Regions from separate parts of the Homo sapiens genome. Here region 2 is linked to region 1. The links come from fine-mapping of genetic effects on gene expression. A gene starts in region 1. The other region holds a variant in brackets. All regions are shown on one strand. Distances are between the middles of the regions. Region 1 holds the start of CRYBB3 (crystallin beta B3). Region 2 overlaps KIAA1671.

Region 1 (5,370 bases):
TCTCCAGCCTGGAGCTGGCACTGAGGTGGGCCTGCACTGCCCTCTAATGGTCATGGAGGGAAACGCCTTCAGGAACTTCAATGAGACCAATTAAACTAGTGATTGCAACTCTGATGTCCAGCAGGAGCCAGGTGGGGAGTCCAGCGGACTGAAATAACCCGAGAGGTCGGTGGGGAAATGAAGCTGCTTCTGGCGATGAGGGAATGAGGTCCCAGTTCCAATTTTTTCAAGAGAGGTCAGAAATCTGTATTTTCCTTAATAGGAAATTTCCCCCTTAAAAAAATGAAAACACCTGTTTGCAGTCTCGGGGAAGACCTCTGCCTGCCCCAAGCCTAGGAAGAGAAGGGCTGCAAAGGCAGACCAAGGTTTTGCCTCTCTCACCCACCTGGAAACACAAACTGACTTTGTAGAAGATCCCCAGGGAACATCTGTTCTAGTCATTTTACAGAAGGGATCAAAGAAGCTCAGAAAGGGTAAGATACTTGCCTCGGGCTGCACAGCAAGTTAAGAGGAGGCACTGGGATTCGACCCATCCTTAGACTCTGTCTGGAATAGTTTCCCAAAAAGACCCCGGAGATGGTTTGGAAAGGGCAGAGCCAACACATTCAAACCTTCTCTCAGATTTCTAGTGTGCCTCCCTCTGCTAGCTGGCTTCACTCATGTCTTTCAGCCTTTACACCAACTCTGGGCACAATATCTGGGCACCATCCTCATTTCAAACATGGGGCTGTTGAGGCCCAGAGAGCCTCCAAACCCTGTGCCCTTTTCCCCAGAGTGGGCAAGACACCAGGCTGAGGTCAGACAGGAGAGTCAGAGCTCAGAGCCGTTTCCAGAAACCCCCGGGCCTCTCTGATCCATTGGTGCAGGCAGGATGTGGGTGACCATTTCTGTTTTGCAGACGAGGGAAGATGCAGCAAAGTCATGAAGCAAGTTTCTAACGGGAGGGTGGCAGTGAGAGGACCCACCCGGAGCGTTTTGTCCTGGCCTGGGTGGTTGGAAGGATGGCTCTTCCTTCCTGCAGAGGTGCTGCTTGGCTGGGAAGATGACCCTGAGGCCCAGGAGTAGCCTGGGCCCTCTGACCCCCTCCCTGCCCAGTACCTTGTAGCTGCCCCCAAGGTCTCCATGGCTCTTGCCAGCTGCAGCCTGTTCGGGTGCTCCGTGCTGTTCCGCCATCTCCCCAGGAACACCTCTGGCTTCAAACCAAAAGAAAATGGTTCACTGGATCCACCCGGGAGAAGCCAGGTGTTGATGTGACTGGAGTCCAGGATGAGCTACAGAGCCTTGCTGCCCATGGGGCGTGGCTGTAACTTATGATCGACATTCAGTCATTCAGCAAACATCCATTGAGCACCTGCCATGGGCCACGTGGACTGAGACAGTGGGATCAGGAGCCCCATTGTACAGAGGGGAACTCTGAGGCTCAGCAAAGTGAGGCCACTTCCTCAAGCACACAGTGAGGAAGTGGCCTGGGTCGGGCCTGGCTCCAAAGCCCGTGCCCTTTTCCCCTGATCCAGATGCTCCCCGAAACCCAGGTTTCTCAGAGCTCTCTGCAGATGTCCCACCCCCAGAACCTGGCTAAAGGGTGGGCTTCAGGGAGTTTCCTCTACAGGGGTCTCTCCCACCTCCGTACTCCAGGAACTCTTTTGTTCACTGGTTACTTTATTCAACAAATATTCCATGAGCACCTACACAGTGCCAGGCTCTGGGCTGGGTGACCAGGAGGGACAGGAGACCCCATATGTCGGGAGGTGGACAGACAGACCTCTAGAGAAAAGGCTTGTAAGACCAGGTCGTTGGACACCTGCTCCAGGTCAGTTTCCCTGCGTTCGGTTACTCATTCCTTAAGCATTTATTGAACACGACTGTGTACCAGCCACTTCAAGACCCAGACACCGACAGTTCTTCATTGCTACAGGGACAGTGACACGCAATACAGGCCCCTGCCGCAGTCACATGGAAGGATTCTCATCATTGTTGCACCCATGGACACACACAGGACTGTTCTGTTTGTCAGCACACACACATAGGTGCACACACTCGCAAAAGTTTCTATGGTCACTATCAGTTATATTTCACCCATGGGCTCACAGGACAGCTTCTTTCTCTCTCTCTCTCTCTCTCCTCACACACACACATCCCTGCCCATTTCAGACATCCACAGTGGTAAACAAGGCACCTACATCTACACCCCACATCCAACTGTTACCCACCCACGGCTCCCAGCACGGCCACCCCAGCATGCACAGCTGCACAGCCCACATACTCTGGATGTGGGCCTAACCATGCACAGCCTGCGGGCTGTCGGTTCTGTCTCTCCTAGCCTCAGCAGGAAACAGGGCTTGGTCCAGCTCACAGGGGACTCTCGGGGGACTTGGCAGGTACCATGTGTGCCCACTCCCCTCCCTCAGAGGAGCTGTTTTGGAAGGTCCCCTGCCCTAAGCACATGTCCAGGGGCTTGGACCCTGGCCACTGCAGACAAGGGTCCCTCGTTCCACCCCCAGCTGGGCTGTCAGGGTCCTCTCACTGGGACCTGACCCTTAAGGGAGGCGCTGTTTTTCTTTGCAGGCGGTCAGCCATGCGCGTCCCACAGAAACTACAAAAGGTCCGGGCCTGCCAGGGTGGCTTTTGCCTCCCCACCCCCAACCCATCCCAGAATGAACCTGTTGCTGTAGCCTCGGGAAGAACAGAGGAGCCACGGCCGTCTGCAGACTCGCCTGTCTTCGCAAGGGGCATGCTATTTATGAGCACTTTCTGACAGCCCAGCACATCCCAGCCTGCTGAGGCAGCACCCTGTCCACCCAATTCCATCCAGGCCACTTCACTCCAATAGCGGGTCCACGGAGGCCCCCAGTGCCTGTCTCCTCAGCCACCGTCTCTGATGACTTCCTGGGGACAGATGAACCTCACTGGCTTTGTGGGAAGCCCAGCAGCGCCAGGCAAGGGGCACGGTGTGCAGCTCTCCCGTGTCTCCCCACAACCACCAACTCCCTTTCTTTGGTTTCTTGGGGTCACCATTTCCTATTGAGTCACACGCAACCTTTGGAAAAATTCTAGTTCTTAAAGTGAGGGACCCCAGACACTCTCCAGTTTCCATGTGCCATGTGGCCTAAGTTTTAAGTCAGATCACGCTAACCATACTCTCCAACTTGGGCGCAAATCCACCCAACCGTTTCCATAGGATGCCGTCACAGAACTCACAGACTGACTTTCTTCATGTAGAAGACACGCACGAATAATAGCTACCATTTCTTGAACACCTACTACACGCAAGGCATTGTGCCAGCTTCACAAGCATTGTATGGAATTCTCATCCAGCCATCCTTAGGGGAGGAATTCTGATTCCACTTTATACATGGAGAAACTGAGTTCAGAGAGGTGAACCCATTTACTCAGAATCACACAGCAGAGAGAAGGGGCTGGCCTGCTCCAGGACCTGGGATCTTAGCCTCAATAGAAATAAAAGTGACCATCACAGTCAACTTATTTATGACCAAAGAAAAAAGGTAGATCCAGGTATTTTTATTTTATTTTTTAGAGATAGGTTGTTGCTACATTGCCCAGGCTGGACTCAAACTCCTGGGCTCAAGCAATCCTTTCTCCTCAGTGTCCTGAATAACCGGAACTACAGGCACGTGCCACTGCACCCAGCTTCCAGGAATTTTTTAAGTGTCTAACAAAGTATAATTTTGCCTGTAATCAATATCTAATAAGTGATTATTTTATGAATAAAATTATATTGGAGCAAAGGAGTGAGTTAACAAGGTTTTCTTTTGTTGTTGTTGGTATTTGTTTTTGGCTAAAATCCTCAAGTCAGCATAAAACCCAGTTACAGGCCGGGCGCGGTGGCTCACGCCTGTAATCCCAACACTCTGGGAGGCCGAGGCAGGCGGATCACGAAGTCAGGAGCTCGAGACCATCCTGGCTAACACGGTGAAACCCTGTCTCTACTAAAAACACAAAAAATTAGCCAGGTGTGGTGGCGGGTGCCTGTAGTCCCAGCTACATGGGAGGCTGAGGCAGGAGAATGGTGTGAACCCAGGAGGCAGAGCTTGCAGTGAGCTGAGATCGCACCACTGCACTCCAGCCTGGGCAACAGAGCAAGACTCCGTCTCAAAAAACAAACAAACAAACAAAAACACAGTTACCCTGTACCCCCTAGAGGGAGATGGTGGTGAGATGCTGTGGATGACAGCTGGACTCTGAGTCAGGCAGATGTGTGTGACCTTGGACGAGTTCCTGAAGGTCTCAGAGCTACTGTCTCCTCACCATAAATGGAGAACCTTCTCTCCACTTGGGCCATTTTGGGAGGTCATGCAAGCAAAGCACTGCGCACAGTATCTGTTATTTTTGACTTTTATTCCCAGCATCCTGCCTACTCTGGACAGTTCAAGCCAAGGGGCTACTTCCTGCTGAAGGTCACAGAAAGCAGTCGGTTTGGACCCCCTGAGTTGGGATGTAGTTGCCACCAGCTGGGACAGAAGGAGGAAGGCAGAGGTGGGGATGGCGTGGCTCCCCCTCCCATCACATCTTTGAGGACCTTGCAGACCTACTGCACGCTCAGCACTTTGATGTACCACATCTCCCCAATCTAGACTTTTCAACCTTGACACTACTGCCATTTGGGGTCGGGTCATTCTTTGTGGTGGGGTCGGGGTGGGAGCTGTCCTGTGCACTGCAGGATGCTGAGCAGCATCCCTGGCCTCTACTCACTTCCTGGAGCATCTTCTCTCCTTCTTGTGATAACCAATAATGCCTCCTTTCATTACCAGACATGCTCTGGAGGGCACAATCCACCCAGCTGAGAACCACCACCTTAAACTGTTACCTGCAAAAATGTCCTGATCACCACTCCCATTGTATAGCTAAGGAGAACCAATGTTTAAAAGAAATCCCACAGCCAGAGGGTGGCAGGAGGAGGACTCAACCCCTTGTCAGTCTGAATGGAAATCCTGCCTTGTTTCCATGGCCTCCCATTCTGCATGGACACCCTCTCCCAGGACCCCAGCTCTGCCCTCTCGCTGGCTGGCCCACAGCTCAGCACAGGACAGACTGACTCAGCCAGCCCCAGTCAGGGCCTGCATGCATGGGAGACTCTATTCATTCACACATGGACGCACCGACTTCTCCAATGCAACTTGCACCAAAGCTTTATTTGCTATTTTCATAGTCTGAATGCAACATCTTTGTACATGCAAAGGTCATCTTGTTTTATTGCAGTCGACCAGATTTCCAACTGCTCTTCTGTGCATATGAAACTTCTTTACAGTTACAAAATATAAAAGCACTTGTAGACGTCCAATACTCTGTGAGGTCTGGTAAGCCCCATTTGTTTTTACATTAAAAATATAAGTTTTTCTAGATGACTTCTCA
Region 2 (5,370 bases), 160 kb after region 1:
GGAGTGGAGCCATGTGAAATCGTCTCTCTCTTAAAACTAAAATAAATAATTTAAATAAATGAAATACTGTTGGGTCTGGGAAACAGTTTCTATAAATGTCTGTTAAGTGAAGAACAGAGAAAAAGAGAGGAAGGGATGGAGAGAGGAAGGGATGGAGAGAGGAAGGAATCACTTTAATGACCATCACACCCTTTTGGGCTGTAAATCAAGAAACCCTCACCCAAGGAACCAACCTTGTTTCTTTTTCTTCTTCTTTTTTTTTCTCTTGAGACAGAGTCTCGCTCTGTTGCCCAAGCTGGAGTGCAGTGGCACGATCTCCGCTCACTACAATCTCCGCTTCCTGGGTTCAAGCAATTCTCCTGCCTCAGCCTCCTAAGTAGCTGGGTCTACAGGCACCCGCCACCAAGCCCGGCTAATTTTTGTATTTTTAGTAGAGATGGAGTTTCACCATGTTGGCCAGGCTGGTCTCAAACTCCTGACCTCAAGTGATCTGCCAGCCTCGGCCTCCCAAAGTGTTGGGATTACAGATGTGAGCCACTGCACCCGGCACAACCCTGTTTCTAACACACACAAAAATTCAAATCCACCCAAATACCCATCAATGAGAGTCTAGGTTAAAATAGATTGGGCTCAGTCACATAATACAATACTTCGCAACCATTAAAAAGAGGAAGGGGAGGCCGGGTGCAGTGGCTCACGCCTGTAATTCTAGCAGTTTGGGAGGCCAAGACAGGTAGACTGCTTGAGGCCAGGAGTTCAAAACCAGCCTGGTTAACATGGTGAAACCCCATCTCTACTAAAAATACAAAAAATTAGCCAGGAATGGTGGTGTGCACCTGTAGTCCCAGCTACTCAGGAGGCTGAGGCAGGAGAATCACTTGAACCCGGGAGGCGGGGGTTGCAGTGAGCCAAGATCCTGCCACTGCACTCCAGCCTGGGCCACAAGAGCAAAACTCCATCTCAAAAAACAAAAGTAAGCCACAAGATTTTCTATAGACTGTTGTAGTTTTCCATAGAAAGCTTATGTATTTACCTATATCTAAGTCTATGCATTTACCTTTATCTATGTCTGTGTCTAGACCAGGGTTCCTCAACCTACAAACTGCAAACACTTGGGGCTGGAGCATTCTTTGCAGTGGGGGCTGTCTTGTGCCTTGTAGGATGTTGGGCAGCATGCTTGGCTTCTACCCATGAGACGCTAATAGCAACCTCTTCCCAGGGTGTGACAACAACAAAATATGTCTCCAGACACTGCCAAATGTGCCCCAGGGGCAAAATTGCCCATAGTTAAAAACCACTAATGGGCCTAGAGGGGTGTTCCCCAGTTTATGCACCACGCTCAATATTTAAAGGAGATTTTCTCTCTACACCATTTTTCTATAGTATTTCAAAATTTTTTTTTTTCTTTGAGACGGAGTCTCTCTCTGTCGCCCAGGCTGGAGTGCAGTGGCGTGATCTTGGCTCACTGAAAGCTCCGCCTCCCGGGTTCACGCCATTCTCCTGCCTCAGCCTCCGGAGTAGCTGGGACTACAGGCGCCCGCCACTGTGCCCGGCTAATTTTTTTGTAGTTTTAGTAGAGACAGGGTTTCACCGTGTTAGCCAGGATGGTCTCAATCTCCTGACCTCGTGATCCACCCGCCTCGGCCTCCCAAAGTGCTGGGATTACAGGCATGAGCCACCGTGCCCAGCCAGTATTTCACATTTTACGCAAGCATTCGCTACTGTTGCAATATGAAAAGCATGACAATTATGCATATATATATGATTGATAAGTGACTGTCAATATAGGAAAGTCCGAAAGGACATAAACAATGTAATGGTGGCTGCCTCTGGGGGAACACTCACCTTTTATTTTCTATACCCCTGTAAGGTTCAAAATTTTAACAACCAACATTTTTTCCTTCTGTATTGGTGTGTTTTTATTTTTTTTTTTAAGATCAAAGAACCAAAGATCTTTTGGCAGGAGACAAGAGAGAAACGGGAAGCTGGTCCAAGGCTTCCCAATCCCGTGGTGAGAAAACAGATCCCCTGACAACCAGCACTGCTGGGGCCTGCGTGCTCCAGGCAGGCATCCAAGGCTGGGCTGCGGGACAGAGCTGAGCCCAGGATCCCCCCTCCACAACATCCCGACTCCCCCACCACC[A/G]GCGGGCCCTGAGCAAGGTGCTGGCAAACATAAGTGTCGCATTTCCTTGGCCTCTTCCTTCTTCCACTGTTACCACAACATCAGCCTGCAGGTAGGGACAGATGAAACCCTTCTCAGGAAGCACACGGGGATGGCCCAAGTTCGGTGCTTTATTTCAATTCAGTCTAATAACAGTGCTTTGGGGCAGGAATCCCTGTTAACTCTGGCATGGCAACTGAGGCCAGGAGAGGCCAAGAGGCTGCTTTACACACAGCAGGCAAGTAGCAGCGTGGAGATTCAGATGCCAAGTCTGCGTGATCCTGCACATGGTGGTTGGAGAGCTTGGCCTCTTGGGAACAGACATGGGTTCAAAGCCTGACTCCATCACTTACCCACTCTTAACTGAAGGCAAATCCTCACCGCATGATCATTACTGACTGTATCCTAGAGTTTCCTTTCTGCAGCATCCACTTCCAGACTGGCCACCTAGTCCCTTTTACAGACAAGAAAACTCGGGTGCAGGGAGGTGAAAGGTTTTGCCCTGTATCACTCAGCTGCAAGTGGCAAAGGAAGAATCTGTGGCCTGATTTGCTGATGCCACATCACACAGGGCGGTGCTAAGTCCATTTCCACATGTCCCCCACAACATTCTACGCTCTTCCCACCTCCAAACCTTTGTCCATGCTGTGCCCTGCTGAGAATGCCCTCACCTCCCCTCATCAGCCCACCCAAAAGCATGGCCAACCCTCAAGCTTGGGCTGAGACCACCGACTCCTCCAGGACACCTTGGGCCACCTCTCCAGTGCCTCCCTCTGCACCCCATCACTCCCCAGTCTTGGATCACAATGGCCCATCTCCCCACAGAGATCAGAAGCTTCAAAGGGTGGTCCTTATGCCTCAGATTTCTTCCCCACCTTCGTGGTTCTTCACCAGAATGGTCTCCTAGAATATGGCCCAGTTGGGTAATTAAGGCCAGATTTGGGTTCAAATACCAGTTTTGTTACTTACTGCTGTGTGACCTGGGACAAGTTATTTCACCTCTCTGAGCCTCTGTTTTTTTCCCCCCATCTGTACAGGAAGATGATCACACAGCAGTAGGTAGTGTCAGCACTCTGCCCAACACTCAGGTATATGCCAAAGATCAAGAGAAGGGGCCCTCTGCCAACACCCTAGAGCCTCACTGATAGATATTTGGGTAGATTTGAATTTGTGTGTGTGTGTTAAAAACAAAGTGGCTTATTTGGGTGAGGGTTTCTTCACAGCTATTCTGCTTATGTACCCCCAAAAGGGTGTGCTTGTAATTAAAGTGATCCCTTCCTCCTTTCCTCCCCACCCCCCACCCTGCCATCCATTCTTCTCTTTCTCTCTGTTCTTCACTGAACAAAGGAAGCCAGATTTTCTTTCTTCTGCTGTGCATGGTGCCAGCCAGGATGGAAAAGTCTGAATGTTCATGACCCCACAAACAGCCTCAGGCAAGGACAGAGGGATTGGAAAATACATACTCCAGGTCCCTTGACCCCTGGACATGACAACTTCAGAGGTGTTCCATGCTGCCTCCCGGGGTCCCCAGTGAGATGTGCCTCTGTGGCCAACCATGGCCCCTGTAGCACCTGCCTCACTTCTTCTCTCCCCTACTGGTTCTTCCTGGGATCACCCCCTTAAAAAGTGCTTACAGGCCGGGCGCAGTGGCTCGCGCCTGTAATCCCAGCACTTTGGGAGGTCAAGGTGGGCGGATCACGAGGTCAGGAGTTCAAGACCGGCCTGGCCAAAATAGTGAAACCCCGTCTCTACTAAAAAAAAAAAATACAAAAAATTAGCCGGGTATGATGGCGGGCTCCTGTAATCCCAGCTACTTGGGAGGCTGAGGCAGGAGAATCGCTTAAACCCAGGAGGCGAAGGTTGCAGTGAGCCAAGATCACACCATTGTATTCCAGCCCAGGTGACAGTGTGAGACTCCGTCTCAAAAAAAAAAAAAAAAAAAAACAAGGGACTGCTGGAACCCAAAACCATGGTGATCCCTCTTTTGAGGCTCACGTAAGATCACTTGTTCACTCATTCAACAAATACTTCTTGAACATTCACAGTATGTCAAGCATGATGCTGGATTCTGGGGACATAATAATGAACAGGATACAACAGGCTATTATACAGCAGGAGCACAATAAAGCTACCATTGATATCTATCATTATCGTCATTGTAGGACAGAAGTGTAAAACAGGTGGCCGGCGCGCTGCATGGGGCTAGCAGACAAGTCTTGTTTGGGCTGAACAGCATTTTTAAAAATAAGTCCTCCTCATTTCCTAATGGGAGGATTACACATAAAAATCTAGATTTTCAGATTCTCTTGATAAATGAGGTTTGCCATCTCAAGGCCAGCATTCCTGCCTGTGAAGAACCAGCTGGGCCAGGCATGGTGGCACACGCCTGTCATCCCAGCACTTTGGGAGGCCGAGGCAGGAGGATCACTTGAGCCCAGGAGTTTGAGACCAGCCTGGGCAACATGGCAAAACCCTGTCTCTACAAAAAATAAAAAATTAGCCAAGCATGGTGGCGCATGCCTGTCATCCCAGCTATTTGGGAGGCTGAGGCGGGAGGATGGCTTGAGCCCAGGAGATTATGGCTGCAGTGAGCCATGATCATGCCACTGCACTCCAGCCTGGGCAACTAAGCAAGACTCTTTGTTTCAAACAAACAAATAAACAAACAAAGAACCAGGTGGGACCAAGCAGCAGTTGTCCAGTTCAGATAGGGCATGAGCTCTCCATTTGCCACAATCCATACCCCTCCCTGGAGCCTCATACCCAGCCTGACTCCACTCATTTATGTACCCAAAGTGGGCCACACAAAATCTGAGTTTCGGCCCCCTAGACTAGATGTTTAAACCATGTTTGACAAAATTAAAAAGTGTCTCGGTACTTACCTTGTGACTGTCTCCAGTCCCTGACTCCCACCAACAGGGTCCCATTTTGGCCTCCAAATTCTCTCCAGTAAGGCTGGGCCTCCCTTTGGGCTGCTCTCGCCTCCTCTCTCTGGCTTCATGCATGATGGACAGGCCCTCTCGGATGTTGGCAGGGGGCCCCTTCTCTGAGTAGGCCCTCTTGATATCCAGCGGCACCCGTCCACAGTCACGTGGGTGGTCACCCCACTGGGCCACACTGTCCTCCTCTCCCCGCCCGGTGGATTTCCTTGGGGTCCCTTTCTTCTGGTCAGTGGGGGGCGATTTGGGTGACACCCTGACCCCACTGCC

The links.
Region 2: its variant is fine-mapped to the expression of CRYBB3 in thyroid (GTEx, PIP above 0.99).

The regions. Positions count from the first base shown.
Region 1 is chr22:25,197,200-25,202,569 of GRCh38, reverse strand. CRYBB3 (crystallin beta B3) reads right to left here and starts at 2,712. Exons shown (of 6, transcript NM_004076.5): 1 at 2,661-2,712; 2 at 1,099-1,193. The coding sequence starts at 1,173. It overlaps KIAA1671, which reads right to left. Exons shown (of 13, transcript NM_001145206.2): 13 at 5,122-5,370.
Region 2 is chr22:25,041,199-25,046,568 of GRCh38, reverse strand. It overlaps KIAA1671, which reads right to left. Exons shown (of 13, transcript NM_001145206.2): 5 at 5,044-5,370. Among named protein-coding and RNA genes, the nearest start is that of KIAA1671-AS1, 69 kb to the left of the region's middle. The variant A/G (reference allele first, on the strand shown) is at 2,144.